Regions from separate parts of the Homo sapiens genome. Here region 2 is linked to region 1. The links come from fine-mapping of genetic effects on plasma protein levels. A gene starts in region 1. The other region holds a variant in brackets. All regions are shown on one strand. Distances are from middle to middle.

Evidence for each region. A credible set is the group of variants that fine-mapping cannot tell apart. PIP is the posterior inclusion probability: the model's chance that the variant is causal. Protein levels are from antibody-based Olink assays in UK Biobank. Linkage for the fine-mapping came from a reference panel and not from the study's own genotypes, which makes the PIPs less certain.
Region 2: its variant is the best candidate, but not a certain one, in a credible set for the plasma level of the F13B protein (UK Biobank, PIP 0.61).

Annotation. Positions count from the first base shown.
Region 1 is chr1:197,061,797-197,072,238 of GRCh38, reverse strand. F13B (coagulation factor XIII B chain) reads left to right here and starts at 4,979. Exons shown (of 12, transcript NM_001994.3): 1 at 4,979-5,079; 2 at 9,182-9,382; 3 at 10,270-10,442. The coding sequence starts at 5,016. RefSeq lists an enhancer at 2,672-3,871.
Region 2 is chr1:197,035,098-197,045,539 of GRCh38, reverse strand. F13B (coagulation factor XIII B chain) reads left to right here. Exons shown (of 12, transcript NM_001994.3): 11 at 4,805-5,018; 12 at 6,129-6,799. The coding sequence ends at 6,162. Among named protein-coding and RNA genes, the nearest start is that of F13B, 27 kb to the left of the region's middle. The variant C/G (reference allele first, on the strand shown) is at 5,162.

The DNA of each region.
Region 1 (10,442 bases):
TTTTGTTGTTGTTGTTGTTGTTGACTTTCTGTCTTGGTGACATATCTAGTGCAGTGGTATATTGAAGTCCCCCACTAGTATTGTGTTGCTGTCTGTCTCATTTCTTAGGTCTAGTAGTAATTGTTTTATAAATTTGGGAGTTCCAGTGTTAGGTACATGTATAATTAAGATTGTGATATTTTCCTGTTGGACAAGGCCTTTTATCATTATATAATGTCCTTCTTTGTCTTTCTTAACTGCTGTTGCTTTGAAGTTTGTTTTGTCTGATATAAGAATAGCTACTCCTGCTCACTTTTGGTGTCCATTTGCATGGGGTGTCTTTTTTCACCCCTTTACCTTAAGTTTATGTGAGTCCATATGTGTTAGGTGAGTCTCTTAAAGGCAGCAGATAGTTGGTTGGTGAATTCTTACCCATTCTGCAATTCTGTATCTTTTAAGTGGAACATTTAGGCCATTTACATTCAACATTAGTATTGAAATGTGAGGTACCATTCCATTCATCATGCTATTTGTTGCCTGAATACCTTGATTTTATTTATTTAAGTATTTATTTATTTACTGTATTTTTGTTTTATGGGTCCTGTGAGGTTCATGCTTTAATGAAGCTCTGTTTTGTTGTGTTTCCAGGATTTGTTTCAAGATTTAGAGCTCTTTTCAGCAGTTCTTGTAGTGCTGGCTTGGTAGTGGCAAATTCTCTCAGCATTTGTTTGTCTAAAAAAGACTGTATCTTTCCTTCATTTATGAAGCCTAGCTTTTCTGGATACAAAATTCTTAGCTGATAATTATTTTTTTTAAGGAGGCTGAAGATAGGTCCCCAATCCCTTCTAGCTTATAGGATTTCTGCTTAGAAATCTGCTGTGAATCTGATAGGTTTTCTTTTGTATGTTACCTGGTGCTTTTGCCTCACAGCTCTTAAGATTCTTTCGTCTTGACTTCAGATAAACTGATGACTATGTGCCTAGGTGAAGATTTATTTATTTATTTATTTTGAGATGGTGTCTCGCTCTGCTGCCAGGCTGGAGTGCAGTGGCGCGATCTCAGCTCACTGCAACCTCTGCCTCCTGGCTTCAAGTGATTCTCTTGCCTCAGCCTCCTGAGTAGCTAGGACTACAGGCATGGCACCACGCCCAGCTAATTTTTGTATTTTTAGTAAAGATGGGGTTTCACCATGTTGGCCAAGACGGTCTTGATCTCTTGACCTCGTGATCTGCCCACCTCATCCTCCCAAAGTGTTGAGATTACAGGCATAAGCCACCACACTTAGCTGCAATAATCTTTTTTTTTTTTTTTTGAGATGGAGTCTTGCTCTGTCGCCAGGCTGGAGTGCAGTGGCACGATCTCAACTCACTGCAACCTCCACCTCTTGGGTTCAAGCAATTGCCGTGCATCAGCCTCCCACGTAGTTGGGGTTACAGGCATATGCCACCATGCCCAGCTAAATTTTTTTTTTTTTTTTGTATTTTAGTAGAGACAGGGTTTCACCATTTTGGCCAAGATGGTCTTGATTTCCTGACCTCATGATCCACCTCCCTCGGCCTCCCAAAGTGCTGGGATTACAGGCATGAGCCACTGTGCCCGGCCGTAATGATATTTTTATGATGATTTCCCAAGTGTTCTTTGAGCTTCTTGTGTATGGATGGCTAGATTTCTAGCAAGGCCAGGGAAGTTTTTTTTTTTCAATTATTTCCCTAAATATGTTTTCCAAATTTTCAGATTTTTCTTCTTCCTCAGGAACACCAATTATTCTTAGGTTTAGTCATTTAACATAATCCCAAACTTCTTGGAGGCTTTATTCACTTAAATTTTTTTCTTTGTCTTTTTTGGATTGGATTACTTCGAAAACCTTGTCTTCAAGCTCTGAAGTTCTTTCTTCTGCTTGTTTTATTATATTGCTGAGACTTTCCAGTACATTTTGCTTTTCTCTAAGTGTGTTCTTTATTTCTTGAAGTTGTGACTGTTTTTTATTTATGCTATCTATTTCACTGAAGATTTCTCCGCTCATATCTTGTGTCATTTTTTTGATATCCTTAAGTTGGATTTCACCTCTCTCTGGTGCCTCCTTGATTAGCTTAATAATCAAACTTCTGAATTCTTTTTCTGGCAGTTCAGGAATTTCTTCTTGGTTTGGATCCATTGCTGATGAGCTAGTGTGATTTTTGGGTGGTGTTAAAGAACCTTGTTTTGTCATAATACCAAAATTGTTTTTCTAGTTCCTTCTCTTTTGGGTAGGCTATGTCAGAGGGGAGATCTGGGGCTCAAGGCTGCTGTTCAGATTCTTTTGTCCCACGGGGTGCTCCCTTGATGTAGTATTCTCCCCCTTTTCCTAGGGATGTGACTTCCTGAGAGCCAAACTGTAGTGATTATTATTACTTTTCTGGATCTAGCCACCAGAAGGGCTACCAGGCTCTGGGCTGGTACTGGGGGTTGTCTGCATAGAGTCCTGTGATGTAAACTGTCTTCAGTTCTCTCAGTCATGGATACCAGCACCTGTTCCAGTAGAGGTGGCAGGGGAGTGAAAGGAACTCTGTGAGGGTCCTTAGTTGTAGTTGTTTGATGCACTAGTTTGGTGCTGGTTGGCCTCCTGCTGAGAGGTGAAGCCAGCTGGACTTCCTGGGTCGAATGGGGACTTGGAGAACTTTTCTGTCTAGCTAAAGGATTGTAAACACACCAATCAGCGCTCTGTGTCTAGCTAAAGGTTTGTAAATGCACCAATCAGCACTTTGTAAAAACAGACCAACCAGCACTCTGTAAAATGTGCCAATCAGCGGGATGTGGGCGGAGCCAAATAAGGGAATAAAAGCTGGCCACCCGAGCCAGCCGCAGCAACCTGGTCTGGTCCCCTTCCAGGCTGTGGAAACTTTGTTCTTTCGCTCTTTGCAATAAATCTTGCTGCTGCTCTCTTTTTGGGTCTGCACTACCTTTATGAGCTGTAACACTCACCGCGAAGGTCTGTGGCTTCACTCCTGAAGTCAGCAAGACCTCGAACCCACCAGGAGGAAGAAACAACTCCGGACGCACCATCTTTTAGAGCTGTAACACTCACTGTGAAGGTCTGCGGCTTCACTCCTGAAGTCAGCAAGACCAGGAACCCACCAGAAGGAAGAAACTCTGGACACATCTGAACATCAGAGGAACAAACTCCGGACACACCATCTTTAAAAACTGTAATGCTCACCGCAAGCGTCCGCAGCTTCATTCTTGAAGTCAGCAAGACCAAGAACCCATTGGAAGGAACCAATTCCAGACACACTGCCATGAGGTAGTGCTTTCATGAGAGCATCAGCTGTGGTATATAGGGGAGGATCAGGTGGTGGGTGGGACACTAGAACTTCCAAGAGAATATGACCTTTGTCTTCAGCTACCAGGGTGGGTAGGGAAGGACCATCAGGTGGGGGCAGGGTTAGGCATGTCTGAGCTCAGAGTCTTCTTGGGTGGGGCTTGTTGTGGCTCTGTGGGGAATGGGGGTGTGATTCCCAGGTTAATGGAGTTACCTTCCCAGGAGGATTATGGCTGCCTCTTCTGTGTCATGCAGGTTGTCAGGGAAGTGGGGGAAAGCTGGCAGTTACAGACCTCACCCAGCTCTCACACAACCCAACAAGCAAATCTCACTTCTACTGTGTTCCCCCAAAAAGCACCGAATTTGTTTCCAGGCAGTAGGGGAGCAGGATTGAGAACTTGCCCCAGGCTACTAGCCTCCCAGCTGAGAATGCAAGCCAGACTTTTGTGCCTCCCTACCTGTTAAGTCTGCACACCAGATTCACGCCCTTTCCTGAGTTCTGGACAGGAAAGTTTGTGTTCGGTTGGAATTGTTACTAAGTTCAGCTGGAGGTTTCCTTCTCCCTGTGGTCTTTTCCCAGTTCCTCCGGCAGCCCCTGTGAGACAAGTCAGAAATGGCTTCTCTGGGGACCCACAGAGACGATGGGGCTTTACCCTTTGCTTCCTCTACCCCTGTATTTCGCTCAGCTCTCTAAATTGTCTGAGCTCCAGGTAAGGTCAAATCCTTCTCCTGTGATCTAGACCTTCAGGTTCCCCAAGGGTGTGTGTTCAGGGGTGGACAATACCCCTTTCACACTTTTCACAGTTTGGGCATTCACAGTATGTGGGCTATTTTCTGGGTCATGCAGGAGCAATATACTTTCTTCAGAGGGTCTGTGGATTATCTTGGCTTTCCTGTTATATCCTTGCAGCAGTTCTTGGAGCAAAAGTTCACAATGCGAGTCTCCACATCCTGCTCTGTCCATCCAAGTGGGAGCTGCAAGTTAGTCCTGCCTCCTATCCACCATTTTTTCCTATTTTGTATTTTAAATTAAAACTCATTAGAATGTAAACTCCATGAGGGCAATAATTTTAATCCAGTTTTTTCACTGCTAAATACCTCAAAACTGTTACATGTGCTGCCATTATCATGGACGTTCTAAACATTTCTCATGAATGAATGTTGATATAGCACAGTGCTGATCTCACCACCTGCCACAAAGTAAAAACTCTCTAAATGTCAAACACTACTATTATAAGTAATACTATTCTATCATTGAGACAACTATGGTTCTGTATCTCTTTAAGGAGTGCAGTCTAGGCAACAACATATTTCAACATCAGGTATCTGTTATCTCATGTTCCTAAGTTCATCTTTTTACCTGATCAATATTAGTAAAGATCTATGGCCTCAAGTGAACTTTACTCTATGAATTTACAATTGGGAACTTAGGTTGAAAATTTACCTAGTATTATTTATTCTGCTGCTATAATTTATTATTTATTCTGCTGCTATTGTTGCCCTAATCAGTTATCATGCTCTTACTGGACTCTGACATGGTAAGTAATGTCAATTAATATAGTTGTGTTATTTTAACATTATTTCAAAATATTTTAAGTGAAATATAAGACTCGTTACAAAAGGACTTAGACAGAGGTTATAAATTATTAACTTTTTCCTCAAGAGAAGTATTGTGTACTTAATGACAAGTTCCTAGTGCTTAGAATTGTTAAAATCTTTGTGAAGCACACCACTGAAGATGAGGTTGAAAAACCTGACTTTTATCATCATATTGATAATCTCAGGAGAACTCTATGCAGAAGGTAAAATTAATTCTTAATATTCTTTATTCTCTAAAACATACAAATGGAGATTCTAATATTTATACAACTCAAGTTTTAATATACTCTTCTATTTTCATTATCAATTTTATAACATATTTTATAAATATAACTTTTTATAATATTTAGACCTTTTCCTTTGAGCAAAATTAGTAAAGTGTTCTTACAGTAGCATAAGTCAGAAAAGCAAAACAAAACAAAAACCCTTGTATCTCTAGGGGGCATAGGAGACCAGGATCTAAATACTTCGAAAAGGTTTTCAGGTTAACAATATGTCCATTTCGAAGTCACATGTTAACTTTAATTCTAAATTTATGCTAGAATCCATTCCTAATACTGACAAAACTTGTACAATTTTAATTCTGTTCATAAGGTGAGAGTTTAATGTGGGAAATTTGAAAAGGAAATAGCCATAAATATTTTTTACTTTTGAGACTTTGATTTTTATCACAATGAATTATTCATTTGTTGGAGACATTAAGTAGTGATTAGTAGGTGAACCATATAATTGCTTGTACAAACAGGGACACTTAGAGAGTAAAAGAGGGGCTCTATTAATAACTGTTTGGACAACACATGTAAATCAGGACTTTCCAAACAAACCAATACCTATGGACTCCCTATTAGAAAGCTTTATAGTCAGATTGCCCAATGTGTAAGATTAGTGTGCGAGTGGAAGCTAGGCAGTGTACATGGGTATGTTGTTCAGGAACATTATCAATATTATCAGGCCATAGGATGAAGAATCCAGGGAGGACACTTAGCATTAGCAAGAGTGAACATACAAAGAAGGAAGCTACAGCAATACAGCTTTTCTAAAATAAACATTTTTGGGAATTTGTTGAAATTAAATACATAAGTTTTAACTGTGTTTTAGTTGAATAGTTAACTATAAATTTTCTACCAAAACATCTATAATTAAAATTATAAAAGTGAAAGACACAGAATTAATCTTATTTTATACTTTTAATTCTATAATAGGATGATTTTTGCATGAATTTCTTTTGATTTTATTTTTCTGTCTAAATAGGGAAATACCAGCAGATATAATTGTCTGTTATCTATACCATAAAGACATTGCAATATTCTAGTTAATTTTCTAATTATTATAAGGTTATAATGCTATTTTACACAACAAAAAAAAAAGTAAGCTGCTTGAAGACCAAGACAATGATTTTATTTTTGCATGCTTCTCTCAACTCCCATTGTGCACTTCAGGGACAAGAATTGAATTAATTGTGTTTCTCATTTCATGGTATGCAAGTATTATTGGCCTATGAAAGGTCTCACTCTTGCTTTACTTACACATTTTATCCCCTTATTCCTAATCTTGAAGTCCATTTCCCCTGGGACCTACTACAATGTTTTAACATGTTACTCTAGCTCTCTCAACCACAAATAGCTCTGGAATGAATATTGTAATATAACCAACTTATCTTTCTGTAAGAATGTCATCAGTCTGTATTCACTCACAGATAGCATTATTGAGTCTATTCTTGTACTTGATTTCTGTAATGAGAGATTACTTTTGCAGAATGGCAGTTTTGAAGTATATCATCTCTGAGAGAGGATGTAAATTGTTGCTCCTCATCATTCTCACCAACACCTCATATTGTCCATTTTTGTACTGGTTGCTATATGGTTATTCATAAAGTGATATCCCATTTTTATTTATTTACCATTCTCTGATCAGTAGTAAGTGTGTCCATCGCTTCATGTACTTTTTTTAATATGTTCAGACATCTGTGATTTCCTGGTTTATATGTGATTAGTATATTCCTCACATTTCTCATTAATTTTTTGTCAGGAATTCATATTCTCCAAGGCATTCCAGCTACCTTAACAAATAATGTGCCTATCCTGGTGGTGGAGGGAGATGTCCCAGGACAGAGAGTCTTTAAAGCCACAACCTAGGATTGTTGTGCAGAGAATACTTTGCTGCCCCTCCCTGACAAGCAACTGTGCCCCTCAGGGAAATTTCTTGTGTATTCACCATTGCACTGCTATTTTGGAAGACTCTTTTTATTGTAAATTCCTTTGGTGCTTGGGTGTGAAAAAATGGTGAGAATAATTCTCAAGGAATGGGGACTATCCAGCCCATGTTTTTCTGTCTGCTCCATCAGATAGTGGAAGTTTTGTTGCTCATCATTCCACATCCATTTCCTTCAAACCTAGGCTAGCACTACTAGTATTTTATGTCTCATAGTAGCATTAAGGTATACAGTGATCAACCAAGGCATTGAAGCCGTAGTAATCACACTGGATCTAGGCCTTCTTCCATCCATGACTGCCCATGTTTCTTCCCACCACAGCTCCTAGGATTGTTCGAGCATTTCTTTCTTTTAAGTGTTTTTATGACTTTAAGATCTTCAACATAAAGATATATTTTTAAAATATATGTTTTATTTGGAGTATAACATATCCAGAAAAATGCAAAAATCACAGGATACACTTATATAGTTTTTACAAAATTTTACACCATCCAGATCAAGATATAGAACAGTGATAGTACCCCAGAAATATGATCCTTCTAAGGCACTAAACCCCAAAGGTAACCATTCTGACTTCTATTATCATGGATTAGTTTGTTTTCTTTTAAAAAGTTATGCAAATGTATACATTAATTCATATGTGATTGGCTTCTTTCACTCAATATTATGTTTATGAGATTCACCATTTGTTCATTTCTGTTGTTGGATAATATTCCATTGTATGCATAGTCTAAAATGTGTTTATCTTTTCTATTATTTATGGGCATTTAGATTGTTCCCAGTTTGGGACTATATGAATACTGCCACTATAAGCATTTTTTTCCATGTCTTTTGGTATACAAATATGTGCTTTTTTTATTGGGTAATATGGTTTGTACATGTTTTACCCCAATATATATTGCAAAGGTGTTCTCTCATAGAGTTTGGACTGATTTATACTTTCAGTTGTAGAAATATGCGAGTTCCAGTTTCTTCACTTCTTCACAATCATTGAGATAGCTTGTCTTTTTCATTTCAGCAGTTCTATTGGATATGCAGTAGTATCTCATGGTGGTTTAAATTTTCATTTCCCTGATGACTAGTAATGCTAAGTACCAGGTCTCTAACCATTTAAATATCCTATTTTGCCAAGTTCTTGCCAAGTATTGCTTTGTTTTACTTGGTTGTCTGTTTTTTCTTTTAATGCTATTTATTTCAAAATTTTTTATGAGTTAGCATATGTTAAGGAGAAACTTTACCTATTCCTGAACTGTACTGTCCAATACAGTGGCCATCAGCCACATATAGCTATTGGAGACAGTACTTAAAATGTCACTAGTTCAAGATCAGATATTCTGTAAGTATAAATATGTAGTGGATTTTAAAGAGTTAGAAAAAAAAAGAATGTAAAATATTTTCAATATATTGGGTTAAATAAAAACCTATTATTAAAACTAACTTCAATTGTTCCTTAGTATTTTTATGAATGTGACTATTAGAAATTTTTAAATTACATAAGTGACTTACAATACATATCTATTAGGAAGTGCAGGCAGGGTGGAGTGGTTCAAGTCTTGTAATCCTAGTGCTTTGGGAGGCCAAAGCAGAAGGATCCTTTGAGTCCAGGAGTTTGAGACCAGCGTGAGCAACAGAGTGAGACCCCTCATCTCTACAAAAAATAAAACAAAAATTAGCCAGATGTGGTGGCATGTGCCTGCAGTCCTAGCTACAGGAGAGGAGGCTTGCTTAAGCCCAGGAGCTCCTGGTGGCAGTGAGCTATATTTCAGCACTGCACTGAAGCTTGGATAACTGAGGAAGACTCTGTGTCTAGGAAGAAAAAAAAAAGTACTGTTCTACGAAGTTATGCAAAGCTTCCCTGAAAAAGTGGTCTGCTAAATTTTATCATGACTGTTGGATGTTTAAAGTCATTTGCAGATCAATTATGATAAAAGGACTGCTTGAGTTGTCACAAAAGTACCTTAAAAATTTAAGTAAGAAAAATAAGTACTAGTTGAAGTGTCTCTAAAAACTTTTAGTTTGTATTGTCACCTGATTACAAATTTATGTTTTTAGATTTGTTTTTCCATTTTCAGCTTGACATTTACTCATTTCAGAGAAACCCTGTGGTTTTCCTCATGTGGAAAATGGAAGAATTGCCCAATATTACTATACTTTTAAAAGCTTTTACTTTCCAATGAGCATAGACAAAAAATTGTCATTTTTCTGCTTGGCTGGTTATACCACTGAAAGTGGAAGACAAGAAGAGCAAACCACGTGTACAACAGAAGGCTGGTCTCCAGAGCCAAGGTGCTTCAGTAAGTCAGCTGGATATGTCACTCAATGTTTCAATACTCAAAGAAATTTGTATATAAAAATAGGGGTCCAATAAAAATGGAAAGCGGTTAAACCTTTTAGTAGATAAGAACAAAATCACTAGCAATCTGTCTTTCTACAAAATGAAGGCATAATTTGAAATCCAGTAAATAATGCTTTTACATTAAAATGTTATTTTCTGTATCTGTTTTTAATAATACTCTGTTGAAGGGAATAGGGTAATAACTGAAATTATCATATTGCAAGGCAAAGAGAGGTAATTTACTTTAAGTAACAAGAAACTTATTTTGATAATTAAGCATAAGATGCCAGAAAAATGCTTGAAACTCTGGCCTCTGGAAGGGCAAGATTGCTACTCTAATGCTTTATCATTTGTAAGACTCATCTCTCTTCATGTGCCAACTTCTCTCATGATACCCATTGAAAAATGTGTTTTTCAATTTTGAATTGAAAGTTTGAGTTCAAAGTTGTGAGAAGGTAATCTAATTGACTCATTTCATTATTTTATATCAGGCTACACTATCATCAAACTATCAATGATCTTCCACTAGGGCAGGTGACCCAGAGTAAGGGGCTTTGGTTGAGCCAGTTTCGTTTAAAAGAGGATGTTGAATATGGCTATTGTGGTTGATATATCTAGTAAACCTATCTAGAAGTAGATGTGGTAGGGGTAGAAATTACTATAAGAACTAAAATTAGTAAATACAAAGAGAGTCAGTGTTAAATTGAATCCATTTTCAAAAAAATTATGCAGATATTTCCAAAATGAAATCGCCAATAATAACATTATACTTTTGGCTTAATTTTACAATTTAGTAAAAGACAAGCTTAGTTTCATCATTAAGTTAAATAATTTTTTTTCCCATAGAAAAATGCACTAAGCCTGACCTGAGTAATGGTTACATCTCTGATGTAAAGTTATTGTATAAAATTCAAGAGAACATGCGTTATGGTTGCGCTTCAGGGTACAAAACCACTGGAGGGAAGGATGAAGAAGTGGTTCAATGTCTCTCTGATGGATGGTCTTCTCAACCAACCTGT
Region 2 (10,442 bases), 27 kb after region 1:
CTTTTTTTGATTTGTAGGCTATTAATTATTGCCTCAATTTCAGACCCTGTTATTGGTCTATTCAGACATTCAACTTCTTTCTGGTTTAGTCTTGGAAGGGTGTATGTGTCCAGGAATTTGTCCATTTCTTCTAGATTTTCTAGTTTATTTGCATAGAGTGTTTATAGTATTCTCTGATGGTAGTTTGTATTTCTGTGGGATTGGTGGTGATATTCCCTTTATTATATTTTATTGCATCTATTTGATTCTTCTCTCTTTTCTTCTTTATTAGTCTTGCTCTCAGTCTATGTAGTTTGTTTATCTTTTTTAAAAAAACAGTTCCTGGATTCATTGATTTTTTTGAAGGGATTTTTTGTGTCTCTATTTCCTTCAGTTCTGCTCTGATCTTAGTTATTTCTTGCCTTCTGCTAGCGTTTGAATGTGTTTGCTCTTGCTTCTCTAGTTCTTTCATTGTGATGTTAGGGTGTCGATTTTAGATCTTTCCTGCATTCTCTTGTGGGCATTTAGTGCTATAAATTTCCCACTACACACTGCTTTAAATGTGTCCCAGAGATTCTGGTACGTAGTGTCTTTGTCCTTACTGGGTTCAAAGAACATCTTTATTTCTGCCTTCATTTCGTTATTTATCTAGTAGTCATTCAGGAGTAGGCTGTTCAGTTTCCATGTAGTTGTGCAGTTTTGAGTGAGTTTCTTAATCCTGAGTTCTAATTTGATTGCACTGTGGTCTGAGAGACAGTTTGTTGTGATTTCTGTTCTTTTTCATTTGCCAAAGAGTGTTTTACTTGCAGTTATGTGGTCAATTTTGGAATAAGTGCAGTGTGGTGCTGAGAAGAATGTATATTCTTTTGATTTGGAGTGGAGAGTTATGCAGATGTCCATTAGGTCTGCTTGGTCCAGAGCTGAGTTCAAGTCCTGGATATTCTTATTTACCTTCTGTCTCGTTGATCTGTCTAGTATTGACAGTGGGGTGTTAAAGTCTCCCATTATTATTGTGTGGGAGTCTAAATCTCTTTGCAGGTCTCTAAGGACTTGCTTTATTAACCTGGGTGCTCCTGAATTGGGTGCATATATATTTAGAATAGTTAGTTCTTCTTGTTGAATTGATCCCTTTACCATTATGTAATGGCCTTCTTTGTCTCTTTTGATCTTTGTTGGTTTAAAGTCTGTTTTATCAGAGACTAGGATTGTAACCCCTGCTCAGCAATAGTAGACGACCCTCCCCCCATAACGCTGTCGTGTCACAGGTTGATCTCAGACTGCTGAGCTAGCAGTGAGCAAGGCTCCATGGGCGTGGAAACTGCTGAGCCAGGCAAGGGAGGGTATCTCCTGGTCTGTCGGTGGCTAAGACCTTGGGAAAAGCACAGTATTTGGTCAGGAGTGTACCATTTCTCACTGTGCTGCCCAGGCTGGAGTTCCTTAGAAACAAATCAGAAACAAATCTCTCCCTCTCTCTCTTTCTCTCTCTCTCTCTATATATATATAAATATATATATATATGAGTTAGTTCCAAGATGGCCGAATAGGAACAGCTCCGGTCTGCAGCTCCCAGGGAGATCAGTGCAACACAATGAGACTCTCTTTGTACATTTTGTTCTTCAAGTTAGTAGCATTCCTTGAACCTTGATGTACTTGATATCCTTCATGGGTTTTAGAAATGTTTGGCTAATATCTTTTAAAATGTACATTTCTCACCTCTTCTGTGATGCCATATTACATATATTACATCTTTTTGCTATGCCATTGTCTCTTTAAATCTATATTTTCTCTCATTTTCTTCTTGTTTCACTGTAGTAATTTTTTGGTAATTTTCTCATTGTATCATTTCTTTGTTTCTATTTGGTAATTTTCTTCTAGTTTAACAATCCTCTCTTTAGATGTATCCAATCTGCTTTAAACTCATCTTTTGAGTTCTCAATTTCAGTTATCATCTTTGCATTTCTATTTTATATTTTCTTTTTGTAGATTTGAGTTATCTGATGAAAGATCCTAGCTTAACATCAACTTCTTGAACATATAATTCATACTTTTTATTAAGGCTTGTCTGCAAACTCCAATATCTGGATCTATTTTTTAGCCCCAAATTCTTGATATTTTTGTTAACAGTTGATTGAATTCCAAATATTATACGTGGAAAATTTCAGGATGTTTGGATGATGTCAGCTTACTCCAAAGAAGACTCATCTCATCCTCTGGCTGATGATTAGTGTAGAGGCAGTTGGTTTTAATACAATTAGAAATAAAGCTTTCTCTATGTTTGTTTTCAGACCTCTGTTTGCCTTTTCTCACAGACTGTAACTCTCCAGGGCTCTTTACAGAGGGTTTGTTGTGTGTATTAAAGCTTTTTCTCCTTGACTGTCTCTGATATTACTGGGAGACTGCCAAATGCCCACTGTAACTTTTTATTTACTTTCTGCTTGGCTTCTCATCCTATGCCTCTATACAAGTCAAGGATAAGCAGTACCTTAGGGAAAAGCTAGTGCAGAGCCTCAAACTCATATCTCTACACTTCCTATCCTTCTAAATTCTTTATTCTTCAAGTCCTGGCTGCTTTGGTTTACCGAAATTCTCATTTTTCTATCTTCAACTCCATGAGATTTTCAGAAGTTCTGCTGGCTGTATGCCTAAGCTTACCATTCTCTATCATCTAACCTCTCAGGTCAGACTTAGAGTCAACAAACACCTCAAGAGAAAAAAATGGCACATAGAATTTTTTTTTTTTTTTAGACAGTCTCCTTTTGTTGCCCAGGCTGGAGTGCAGTGGTGCGATCCCTGCTCACTGCAACCTCCACCTTCTAGGTTCAAGAGATTCTTCTGCCTCAGCTTTCCCGAGTAGCTGGGATTACAGGTGCATGCCACCATGCCCGGCTATTTTTTTTTTTTTTTTGTAGAGATGGGGTTTCACCATGTTGGCCAGGCTGGTCTCAAACTCCTGACCTCAGATGATCCGCCCGCCTTGGCCTCCCAAAGTGCTGGGATTACAGGTGTGAGTCACCACGCCCAGCCTCACATAGATGTTGAACTCACCTGAATACATTTTTTCCAGAACCTTACTTCCTTGACTAAGTTCCTTGGAGGTTTTCTGATACCTCGAAATGCTTCCTGTTTTTCAGATTTTCTGGTTCTTAATAGAAGTGCTGGTTTGATATAATCTCCTCTGTCATAGCTGAAAGTTAAAGGTCCATGAATCAACTTTTAAATTTATTTTAATTTAAATCTCATGTTCTGTAGAACAGTGACATCGTAAATTATAGTGCTATTCGACTTCATTTTCACAACTATTTTGTAATGAGTGTAATAATTCTTGTTCATTTTCATCACCTGTAGCACTTCCAGCATAATGTTTGACACATAGGCATTTAATAAGTAGTTGTTGAAGAAAGTAACTGAACACAGTGCTCTCAGCTGCGGTTTCACTTTCTGTGGTTTCAGTTACCTGCTATAAACTGCAGTCTGAAAACGTTAAATTGAAAATTTCAGAAATAAACAACTTATAAATTTTAAATTATGCACTTAGTAGTATAATAAAATTTCATGCCATTCCATCCTTCCTGCCCCAGATATGCTAAAAAGAAGCTGTAAAGTGCTTCCTTTAAGTGAAAGGGCGGAAATTCTTAACTTAAAAAGAAAGGAAAAATAAATGTATGCTGAGGTTGCTAAGATCCATGGTAACAATGAGTCTTCTGTCTATGAAAGTGTGAAGAAGGAAAAAGAAATCCATGCTAGTTTCGTTGTTGCACCTCAAACTGCAAAAGTTACAAGCCACAGTGTATAATAAATGTTTAGTTGAGGTGGAAGAGGCATTAAATTTGTGGGCAGAAGACATGAACAGAAACATGTTCCAAAAGAATGACAACAGGGTTTAGCATTATCTGCGGTTTCAGGCATGCACTGGGGCTCTTGAAATGTATCCCCTGTAGGCAATCAGGGAGGGGCATACTGTAAGTAAGTTTGTTAATGTACTACAGGTATATGATTGATATGCCATATTAGCAACTCTGGACCTTTTTACCTGTCTCAGAAGTTATTCCTTAATGCTAGGTCATCCAGGAGACAAATAAGGACATAAGAAATCCCATTTTCTGAAATAATTTGATATTTGATATTTTAGAAATATTAATGTTTTTATTCTGTAAAAAAAATCGAAGAGGTTTTTTTGTGTATTTTAATACATACTTTACCATTCTCTTTGGTTTACGATACATGGGAAAGGACACAACTATACTTTGTATGCTTAGAATTTAAAACGTCTTAATCCAGTCTTGATATTTCTTAACTAGAAATTTGAAAGAGAAGTAACTGTCAACCATTTTGGATGGCATGAGGTTATAAAGCTTGGGTCAGTGTTGAGAATCTACATTTCCATAAAATGTTATTTATACAGCAATTAATAATTTGTCTCATGAGAATTTTATTTGAACTTTCTGAAGAAGGAAAAGGGAAAAGAGCATGATATCAATGACCATTAGTAACTGTCAATGCTTCCCCCCAAATACCTTTTTGTTTGTTTGCTATCTTTGAAAAAGCTAATGACATAAAACTAAAATACCTTTTAGTTTTTAAAACTGGAAGAAAATACCTTTTCTCCAAATCCAGGACCACAGAGAGAAATGGCTCACTGTTTTCTGTGAGATTTGAACATATTTTCTGACTCAAATATTAATTCTGATTAACTGACTTGCTGCTCTTAGGCCTGAGAATTTTAAGGTCCTCATGAGTAGGCAACACAACGATTCCTGTTCTTACCAAGATGTAACAAGATAGTTTTCTTCTTTTTCTTTCTTTTTTTTTAAATTGTTGTTCCCAGAGCCATGCACATTATCTTTTACTGAAATGGAAAAGAATAATTTACTTCTGAAATGGGATTTTGACAATAGACCACACATTTTGCATGGTGAATATATTGAGTTTATTTGTAGAGGAGATACTTATCCAGCTGAATTATATATTACTGGATCTATACTTAGAATGCAATGTGACAGAGGGCAGTTAAAATATCCAAGATGTATTCCAAGACAAAGGTAAGAAGTTTTTTTTTTTTGGTCAGATTATTTTTTTTGGTCAGATTGTTATTCAACATTTCAGAAATGTTATGTTCTATACCACTCATACTTTATGGCAATTGCAAAGAAAAAATAATAATATTTTCTTCATTTTTTTTACA[C/G]CAAACAAACAACTGGAAGTGGTAATCAATTCAACAGGCCTTCTGAATTGTCTGAAGTGAAAGCAACGTTTGCCATTTGATATTTGTGACACTTTGGCAAATGGAAAAATAAACCAATTTATACGTGCAATATTTCAATGTGCAAAAATTAACCTATATGTTCTGTGATAAGGACAAAAATCACACTTTCTCCTACTTCTCAATATAAGTTCAAGCACTACTAATAAAGGTTGGAAAATGTGGTATTTATTTTCAGGACCACATTTTTGTGTAACTTTTGGAAATTACATACTAAAGTGTTTCCTCATATGACAGTTTAAAAAATATATCCTCTGCTACTTACAGGAAATAATTTAACAATTTTCTTAGAGAAATGTTAAAAAAGTATAATAAAATGATGTAAACCATTTTGTAGGATCACAATTTTAACCCTTTTTGAAGACACTATATATAAAAAATGGAAATTATATTTTTTGTTCAACTAAGAATATTAAAAATATAAGTAGTGGCAAAGTGCATGTGGTCCTGTTTTAAAAAATGCAAACAATGAACTGTATGAACTACATAAAGTCAGTTTTTTAGATGCTTTGACCACTCTAGTAAAAAAATATTTAAAAGACACACAATAGTGGGAAAAATTTTTATTTTTATTTCTAATTGTGGTAGCATCAGGGTGGAAAAAATTTTATATGCTATTTAAATGTTTTGGTACAGTATGAATTTCTCACTTTTAAGAGAAAAAGGTAAACACGTAGAAAATATTTAAAAAATCATGAGTAGTGTAGTAAATAATATTGCATTTTTAAAAGGGAACTGGTGGTATTATTTACTAAGTAAGATCATTTATTCTTATTAGTACTTAATAAAAACAATGACTCATTATATGAAAAATTGAAAGGCTGAGATTGTAATTAACACCTGACTGCAATTGATGCTTATTTCAAAAATCTCTCTTTTTCCCCTCAAGCACTCTGTCTTATCAAGAACCCTTAAGAACATAGAAATGAATGGCAGAAAGAGGAGTCATATTTCAATACATCATGAAATTCCTTATAAAATATAATTTTGAGGAAATAAGTTAAAAACTTCGGAGTTTTTCCTTGCTTAAATATTTGAATCTAAATTATTTGTGCTGAACATTTCGTTATTTATAAATGAAAACCAATAAATGTCTAATTTTTAGTTTGTATGATTTGATGTAGAACTTAATCTCTTTTGTATGTCTTCCATCTGTTACAAATTAATCTACACATCATATTTTCATTTCCTAATGCCCATTGACTAGACTATATAGTTGTTTTCAATATACTGTATGTGCAAAAATTTCACATTCACATTCGTCATCATCTTTATTAATATTAAGGCTTTTGTTACCCTTAATTCAAAGTTTATGTCACTATTAAAGGGCCAAACACACTAGAGATAAGAAACTATATGCTGTATTAGAGGATCTGCCTTATTAAAGGCAGAAGAGACTGCCCTTCAGACTTTCTAAATGTAAAAAACTTTTAAAATTAACTGTAATATTTGCTACAACGTTAATAACCAAATTGTTTATGAGGTGGTGTACTACCATATTTGAACATGTGCTCAAATATTGTTAAAGAGACACAATTAAAGAAAGAATGACCCTTGGAATTTTATTTAATTTTATTTATTTATTTATTTATTTATTTAGAGACAGAGTCTTGCTCTGTCGCCCAGGCTAGAGTGCAATGGCATGATCTTGGCTCACTGCAATTTTTGCCTCCCGTGTTCAAGCAATTCTCCTTCCTCAGCCTTCCAAGTAGCTGGGATTACAGGCGTGTACCACCACGCCCGCTACGGTTTTTTTTTTTTTTTTGTATTTTTAGTAGAGACAAGGTTTCACCATGTTGACCAGGCTGGCCTCGAACTCCTGACCTCATGTGATCCACCCGCCTTGGCCTCCCAGGACTCTTGGCATTTTTACATTTTACACTTTCAAGTCTTTTTTTATATCAAATAATTTTTGGAATTATGCAGACTACAAAATCTGAAATAAGAGAGTTCTACAAGCATCAAAAAATGAGTGTCAGTATTATCAAGGTCTGTTAGAGACATGAAACAGCAACACTGTCACTTTTTCATTTGAAGTGAGAGTTATACTTCTAATTATTTCAGCTCATTCATAAGCATATGTAATAGCACTAGTACCCAGATACTAGGACCCCGATTAGGATTGGTTGTTGGTATTAGAACGAGTTTTCCTTTCTAGAAACTACTCAGTTTTTCTAACTCAAGATCTTAGTTTCTCATTACGATGATATTCTCAAATGCCCAATGTACAATTCTCTACTGCTGGGTATGAAATAGCTTCTTTTGGAAATGATGCCACAGCTGACCTAACTCTGTGGATTAAATAAGTATTAATTCATTCAATGTTAAACATGTATATTTCAGAACTGTCCTTGAGTTCATATTCATTATTTTAATTAATCTCCTGTAGTAGGTTCCCACAGTGGATCTCATAAAAATGGAAATTTAATTAAAATTAAATATCAACAGAAAAGCATTAATCTTTTTAAATAAATTTCCCAATCTATCAATTAAATAACATTATTGAGCACCTGCTATATCCCAGGGAACATGCTGGGTAGTACAGGATTCAAAATGATTAAAATTCACCTCGTTATTTCAAAGAACTCACAAAGTAAAAAACTACTTACTTAGTAAAAGAGATAAACTTGTACTAGTGATTGCAGACTCAAAATGGGTGATGATTGTGGCTTATCTAGTGATATTTCTAGTGAACTGGAGATGGCATGCACTGTTTAACCTGGACAACTACTTCGCTCAAGGTGAATAATTGTCATGGGGGAATATTGTATCCAGTATTGCCATATGTTCTGATTTGTTAATTGTGAAATGCACTGATTTTTATATGTTGCGAGGAGATAAAAAATTATTTAGGCAGTGCAGCTCAAAGTAAACTCCACATGCTAAAGAAATAAAAATTTTGAAAAGTGCAACAGTGGAAGCATGTACGAAGTAAAGTGGTGGCACAAAGTAGGTAGTATTTAACCTTTTTTTTTTTTTGTATGAATGTGGTATAGGAAGCTTCTTGGAAAAAAGTTAAAGTAAATCTGAGGTTTACAAAACTAGAAAACACACTTCAAGTAGAAGGAATGGCATTTGCAAAGTCAAAGCTCATACTCTATGCTAGGCATTACACCGAGCACTGAAAATAAAACAATGAATAAGACACAGACTGTTTCTGCTCTTGTGGAGCTTGTCTCTCGGAGCGGAAGAAAGATATAAGCAAATCCTTACAAAATAAGGCATGGCAGCAAAGACACCATCTTTGTCAGTAAACACCAGATGATACTGCCTAGTACTGGGTGTTTAAAAAGTCTTCAGTGAGGAAGTGATATATAAGTGACATATAGGCTGAGATTGGATGGGAGAAATGATAAGAATTCATGTAGAGAAAGAACATGAAATACAGCAAAGAACATGACATTTCCAAGAAGCTAATAAAAACCCAGTATGGATTGAGTGGAAAGGAGTGAAGGACAGAGAGGAGTATGCGAAACTTGGAGAGGTTGGAGCCCTGATTGTGAAGGCCTTTGTAGGTCAAATTAAAGATTTTGGAAGTCACTAAATAGAATGCGATGCTTACTGGGAATTTTTAAAAGACATCACTGACTGTAATATGGAGAGACTGATCTGAAGGGCAAAAAGTGTGGGCAAAGAGAAATCACTGAGGAAAACGAGGCAGTCATCTGGCAAAGATAAGGTAGTCACTTACACCGGTGGCAGCAGCAGGATGGTACAAAATAGGCTGAAATAAGATATTTAGGATGTGACATCATTATAATGATAATTGATTAGATGTGGGGGACAGTGAGGCAGAGAAAAGAGTTCAGGAGGACTCCTAGGTTTTGGCTTGACTAAGTGGCTATCTAAATATGATAGGAAGAATGGCAAGGAGAAGCAATGGGAGGGAGTGGGGATTAGCATGAAGAGTTTTATTAATAATTTTGGAAATGTGCTTTTGAGGTATCTGTGAGATAGGAAAGTGAAAAGACTAAGTAAGCACTTGATTTTTTTTTTTTTTTTTTTTTTTTTGTAGTCAGAGTCTCGCTCTGTCACCCAGACAGAGCTGGAGTGCAGTGGCACCGTCTCAGCTCACTGTAACCTTCTCTTCCCAGGTTCAAGTGATTCTTGAGGAAGCACTTGATTCTTATGGTTGATGCTTTGATGAACCACCTAGATTTCCTTCAGAAACACAAAGACTTACTTTTCCAGCTACTGGGAGCTCTCACTTATCAGTTCCCTAAAAGGGGTTGCCTCAGCTTAAGGGAGCCTCTTTCCCTAAGGTCATAGCTTCTTCCCAGGTTGGCCTACACTAATGATTGATCAACAGGACTTATAAAGAAAAGGCTCCTCACCCAAACTCAGGACAGTTCTAAAGAGTAATTTCAGCTTCTGAGTTCCTCATAGTATTGACTGGGGCCTCTGGTTGAAATGACATTGCAACTCAACTTCTCCCTTTTGACTTCCTTCGTTTCCCTTCCCCAGGTGTGAAGCCCAAGAATACTCCCTGAAAGTCCTCTTGTCTGCTAATTTCCATCTCAAGGCTGACTTCCCTGGGTAGCTCAATCTGTAACAGTTACATAAGCCTGGGTATCAGAACAGAGCACTAGGCATAATTTGGAGTCATAAGTCAGTAGGTGTTTAATAAAACTAAGGTAATAGACGAGTTTTTCAGGGTGAAGATAGATGTAGGCCTACTTCAGGGCTTTGAGGCACCAAAGTTTAGTGTTTGGGAATAGGACAAGATACAACAAAGGAAACTGATAAGAAATGGCCAAACTATTTGAATGAAAAGCAGAAGAGATGGGGACTAAAAATGCTGTTTGGTTATTATTGATTACCTTGAAAGAAAGAGCATCCAGTAGGAAATTGAGACGAGAGTAGGATGAGGAATAAATGTAAGGTACAAAAAATCAGAAATATGAATGTAGTGAGCTTGCCAATATGTGTGACAGTGAATGGAGGGATAGAAATAAAGGAGGTCTGCCGGGCGCTGTGGCTCAAGCCTATAATCCCAGCACTTTGGGAGGCTGAGGCAGGTGGGTCATCTGAGGTCAGGAGTTCAAGACCAGCCTGACCAATATGGTGAAACCCTGTCTCTACTAAAAATACAAAAATTGGGCGTGGTAGTATGAGCCTGTAATCCCAGTTACTCAGGAAGCTGAGACAGAAGAATTGCTTGAGCTTAGGAGGCAGAGGTTGCAGTGAGCCGAGATTGAGTCAC